Regions from separate parts of the Homo sapiens genome. Here region 1 is linked to region 2. The links come from fine-mapping of genetic effects on gene expression. A gene starts in region 2. The other region holds a variant in brackets. All regions are shown on one strand. Distances are between the middles of the regions.

Region 1 (2,911 bases), 130 kb after region 2:
CATGAGCCACCGCGTCTGGCCAAGGTGTGATAATGGTATCGAGGTTTTGTTTAAATATACTGCCTACATTTTTGAAATACATATCGACATATTTGTGGGTGAAATGTTATGATGTACGGATTGCCTCAAAATAACACTGGTGAAGGGAAACAGTGGGGACACAGACGAAACGAGACTGGCCATAAGTTGATAACAACTGCAGCTTAGTAAGGGGTTCGAGGGAATTGTAAACTACTTCGTCTACTTTTGCACGTTTGAGATTTTTCCAAAATAAAAGTTGAAAAAAGTAATCAGTGCTTAGGGTTCTTTTAAGATTTCTCAGCTCAGAGCATATATTCACAGAATATGAAGGCCTGAGGGCCTGGTCCTGGGTCTTCCCTCTGCCTGGAAGGCTCTTCCTCCAGATACCTGCATGGCCCTCACCTCCCTCAAAGTCTTTGGGTAAATGTCATCTTCTCAACCAGGTCTACCGTGACCACCGTAGGGAATCCGTTAACTTCCTCCACCCCAGCCCTCTCGGTCCCCTTTATCTTAGTTATTGTCACTATAGGACATCACCTTCCAACAGCAGTAGCCTCATTATATGATTATATGAACTCTCACCACCCAAGTATGTGCTCTAAATACCTGTAAAACTTTGTATCCCAAATTCACTATCTGAATTTCAAATTCGCTAGAAGTAATCTGCGTGTGCAGGTAGCAGGATGCGGAGTGCAGTGTGTCACGGGATCGCAGCCAGGCCCAGCCCAGCCCAGCCCTTTCAAGCATGGTGCACTACTGTCCTCATCTTTACTACCCTTCCCCAGGGGTTTAGCTTTCATGGGTTCCAGTATTTGCTTCTTCCAGGTGCCTGGGGCACTACCAACCAGGGTCCAATTTCAAAATTATTTTTAATATACTTTTGTATCATTTGTTTATCTATATAACAGTATATCTTCTTTTGCAGTATAGAAGCAAAACCATTTATATTTAATACTAAAGTAACATAGCACATTAAAATATCCAATATTAATATTATTTTAAAAATTAGGTTACTGGTGTTTTATTATTATTATTTTGAGACAGAGTCTCACTCTGTTGCACAGGCTGGAGTGCAGTGGTGCAATCTTAACTCATTGCAACCTCCGCCTCCCAGGCTCAAGCGATTCTCCTGCCTCAGCCTCCCCAGTGGCTGGCACTACAGGCATGTGCCAAAATGCCGGGCTAATTTTTGTATTTTTAGTAGAGATGGGGTTTGACCATGTCGCCCAGGCTGGTCTTGAACTCCTGACCTCAGGTGATCCACCTGCCTTGGCCTCCCAAGTGCTGGGATTTACAGACATGAACCACCGTGACCGGCCAGGTTACTGCTGTTTTAAATGCTTCTTATTTAAACCAAAAATTCTTATCATATAGATATTTAACAGTATTATTGCTGAATGTGGTGGCTCATGCCTGTAATCCCAGCACTTAAGGAGGCAGAGGTGGAAGGATAGCTTGAGCCCAGGAGTATAAGAGCTGCCTGGGCAACATAGTGAGATCCCATTCTCAAAAAAAAAAAAAAAAAA[T/AT]TAAGAGTATTGTAGTGATATTTGAGGAAATTTGTTGGGGTTTCTTGGATGTCTGAAAATAAGCTGTTATTTTTCATTTATTCTTTATTTCAATTTTTAACTAATAATTTTTATGGGTACATGGCATATATATTTATGGGGTACATAAGACATTTTGGTACAGGCATACAACATGTAATAATCACATCAGGTTATATTGGGTATCCATCGCCTCAAGCATTTATCATTTATTTATGTTACAAATATTCCAATTATACTTTTAGTTATTTTTAAATGTACTATAAATTATCATTGACTGTAATCGTCCTGTTGCACTATCAAATATCAGATCTTTAAAACATTAAAAAAATTTTTATAATTAAAATAATTGTTTTGGCTGGGCGTGGTGGCTCATGCCTGTAATCCCAGCACTTTGGGACGCTGAGGCGGGCAGATCACCTGAGGTCAGGAGTTCAAGACCAGCCTGGGCAACATGGTGAAACCCAGTCTCTACTAAAAATACAAAATTTAGCTGGGCATGATGGTGCACACCTGTAATCCCAGCTACTTGGGAGGCTGAGGTAGGAGAATCGCTTGAACCTGGGAGGTGGAGGTTGCAGTGAGCTGAGATTGCGCCATTGCACTGCAGCCTAGGCAACAAGAGTGAAACTCCGTTTCAAAAAAAAAAAAGTTTTTAAAAAATAGAGATGGGGTTTCACTATGGTGCTCAGGCTGGTCTCAAACTACTGGACTCAAGGAATCTTCCTACCTCAGCCTCCCAAAGTGCTAGGATTACAGGCGTGAGCCACCATGCTTGGCCAAATACCAGGTCTTATTCATTCTATGTTTTTGTATCCATTAACTATCATCACTGCCCGACTGCCCATATGAGCCTGTGGTAACCATCATTAGACTATCTCCATGACTTTAATTTTTAACTCCCAGAAGTAAGTGAGAACATTCAAAGTATGTCTTTCTGTACCTGGCTTATTTCATTTAACATAATGTCCTCCAGTTCCATCCATGTTATTGCAAATGACAGGAACTCATTCTTTTTTATGGCTGCATAGTACTCCATTGTGTATATGTACCACATTTTCTTTATCAGTTTGTCTGTTGATGGACACTTAGGTGCTTCCAAATCTTGGCTATTGTGAATAGTGCTACATGGGACTATTTTGGTTTTTTGAGGAAACTCCATACTATTTTCCATATTCGCTATACTAACTTACATTCCTACCAACAGTGTACGAGGGTTCCCTTTTCTCTACATCCTCACCAGGATTCACTATTGCCTGTCTTTTGGATAAAAGCCATTTTAACTGGGGTGAGATGATATCTCATTGTAGTTTTGATTAGCATTTCTCTGACAATTAATGATGTTA
Region 2 (2,911 bases):
GTGCGGGAACTCTGAGTCAGACGTGATTATCTGGGGGTCTGTCCACCCTGGCTGGATCTGGAGGCAAGATGCCAGGCCCCCCAGGTGTTCTCAGGGCAGTTCTTGGTGTCTGCTTCTCAGATTCCAAGGACTGGAATTAAAACCTTTCCTGGGACTCTGGCGTGCCCTGTGTGTGTGTGTGATTTACCTTGCAAGAGAATCAGGGCTCCCGTGGGGAGCACCTGAACCAGGCCGACTTCTAGGGTGCCTGCAGATTGCCACTCCTCACACTACCCAGCAGAGGCTAGAGCACTGTGCGTGGGGCCAGGCTGGGGAGGGGGAGGTGGGCGCTGGGCTGCCTGGCGCTGGGCAGAGTCAACATATGGCACCGGGAGAGTGCCTCGGCGGGGAGGGTGGATGCGTGTGCTTGGAGCCTGGGTCATGTCTGCACCTGTCCCAGTTGCCTGGCAGATTGGCAAGGCAGGCTGGCAGAGCCTGCGTGCGTGGGAGGCAGCCGGCAGCACCGCCATGTGCTGACGACCTCACAGCCAGACTCCCCCTGGTTAGCACTGAGTGTCAGAACCACCCCCAGAACCTCAGTTAAGCAAATAGGTTGGTTTCCATGGAGACATGGCATATTTTCTCCATGGCAACCTAAAATCCTAAAACCCAGGTTCAGGAATGAGTCATCTATGGACAGTAGAGGGTGCTCTCCCACAAGGCTGACCTGAGGCCAGGGGCAGATGAGCAACTGACCACAGAGCCAAAGGTGCCCCCAGAGCATGGCTGGGGCCTGTGGGGACTGAGGCCGCTTAACCACTTCCCGCCCACGTGTGCAATGTGAGTAGCTGGTGAGGCTGCAGGAGGCCGTGTGTGGAGGTGGCATCCCCCAGCTGGGGCCCTCAGAGCAGGGCTAGCATGGAGGGGACCCCTGACCCCCAAAGCAGGGTCCAGAACAGAGGAGGCGGGCACTGGCCAGGCAGGGTGGACACACAAGAGTTAACTGGCGGGTGTGACAGGCGGACCGCCCTCAGGAAGTGTTACTCACTGGGGATGTGCGTGCCTTGCCTTGGGACTGGATTCTCTTCCTGAAGCGAAGGAGCTCCCAGCCATGGAAAGCCCTGGAGAGTCAGGCGCGGGCTCTCCTGGAGCCCCCAGCCCGTCCAGCTTCACTACTGGGCACCTGGCGAGAGAAAAGTTAGTGAAGTTGGCAGGGCAGCCAGGTGGGGCAGGGAGGGGCTGCGAGAGGAGGGCCTATCCGGGGATAGAGAAAGTGGGAAACCCGGGAGTGGGGAAGAGGAGAGCAAGGGTCCCAGCCCCTGGCTCCCTGCTCAGATCTGGGTGCCTGCCCCCAGGCCAGCCCAGGACCCACTGTATGACGTGCCCAATGCCAGCGGCGGGCAGGCAGGCGGGCCGCAGCGGCCGGGGCGCGTTGTGAGCCTGCGGGAGCGCCTGCTGCTCACCCGGCCCGTGTGGCTGCAGCTGCAAGCCAACGCAGCGGCCGCACTGCACATGCTGAGGACCGAGCCCCCGGGGGTGAGTCTTGCCCCACACTCCAGGGACTGGCCAGCCAGGGGTGGGAGGGAGAGGGATGGGACGCCAAGGTCCTGAGCTGCCTGAGCCCTATCCACTTGCAGACGTTCCTCGTGCGGAAATCTAACACCCGCCAGTGCCAGGCCCTGTGCATGCGGTTGCCTGAAGCCAGTGGCCCCTCCTTCGTCTCCAGCCACTACATCCTGGAGAGCCCTGGCGGTGAGGGGCTGGCCTGGCGGGAAGGGGCTGGAAGCAGGGAGGTTCCCCAGAGAAGCACCTCACTTCCCTCCTCTCTCAGGCGTCTCCTTGGAGGGCTCGGAGCTCATGTTCCCAGACCTAGTCCAGCTCATCTGTGCCTACTGCCACACCCGGTGAGTCTGCCCGCAGGGTGCCTGGTGTCCACGGGCCCTGCTCCTTGGGACAGCCCATCCTTCCCGCCCTCTTCGGCCCTCACTCCCTTCTGCTCCCCTCTCTGGCCTCAGGGACATCCTTCTCCTCCCGCTGCAGCTCCCCAGAGCCATCCACCACGCAGCCACTCACAAAGAGCTGGAGGCCATCTCCCATCTGGGCATTGGTAAGGGCTTCCTGCCACCCATTGCACAGATGAACAAGCTGAGGCCGAGGGGAAGGCAAGGCTCGCAGCACACCGCCCGAAGCCCCTGCCTTGCCTTGGTTGGGAAACTTCCCCTAACCAGTCCCGGAGGCCCCAGTCGGTTTCTTGTTCCCTAGAGTTCTGGAGCTCCTCCCTCAACATCAAGGCTCAGCGGGGCCCGGCTGGAGGCCCAGTGTTGCCCCAGCTGAAGGCCCGGTCCCCTCAAGAGCTGGACCAGGGCACCGGAGCCGCCTTGTGCTTCTTCAACCCCCTGTTCCCGGGGGACCTAGGGCCCACCAAGCGGGAGAAATTCAAGAGAAGCTTCAAAGTGCGCGTGTCCACAGAGACCTCCAGCCCCCTGTCTCCACCTGCCGTGCCACCTCCCCCCGTCCCCGTGCTGCCAGGGGCAGTCCCCAGCCAGACAGAGCGGCTGCCCCCTTGCCAGCTGCTACGGAGGGAGAGCTCAGTGGGGTACCGCGTGCCAGCAGGCAGTGGCCCTAGCCTTCCGCCTATGCCCTCCCTCCAAGAGGTGGACTGCGGCTCCCCCAGCAGCTCCGAGGAGGAGGGGGTGCCAGGGTCCCGGGGGAGCCCAGCGACCTCACCCCACCTGGGCCGCCGACGACCTCTGCTTCGGTCCATGAGCGCCGCCTTCTGCTCCCTACTGGCACCGGAGCGGCAGGTGGGCCGGGCTGCGGCAGCACTGATGCAGGACCGACACACAGCCGCGGGCCAGCTGGTGCAGGACCTACTGACCCAGGTGCGGGCTGGGCCCGAGCCCCAGGAGCTGCAGGGCATCCGTCAGGCGCT

What was found.
Region 1: its variant is fine-mapped to the expression of RIN1 in whole blood (INTERVAL, PIP above 0.99).

Annotation. Positions count from the first base shown.
Region 1 is chr11:66,204,295-66,207,205 of GRCh38, reverse strand. The region is part of intron 2 of PACS1 (phosphofurin acidic cluster sorting protein 1); the gene reads right to left. Among named protein-coding and RNA genes, the nearest start is that of KLC2, 52 kb to the left of the region's middle. The variant T/AT (reference allele first, on the strand shown) is at 1,548.
Region 2 is chr11:66,334,582-66,337,492 of GRCh38, reverse strand. RIN1 (Ras and Rab interactor 1) reads left to right here and starts at 1,059. Exons shown (of 10, transcript NM_004292.3): 1 at 1,059-1,176; 2 at 1,335-1,515; 3 at 1,617-1,731; 4 at 1,811-1,883; 5 at 1,995-2,086; 6 at 2,242-2,911. The coding sequence starts at 1,091. It overlaps BRMS1 (BRMS1 transcriptional repressor and anoikis regulator), which reads left to right. Exons shown (of 10, transcript NM_015399.4): 10 at 1-154. RefSeq lists an enhancer at 1-579.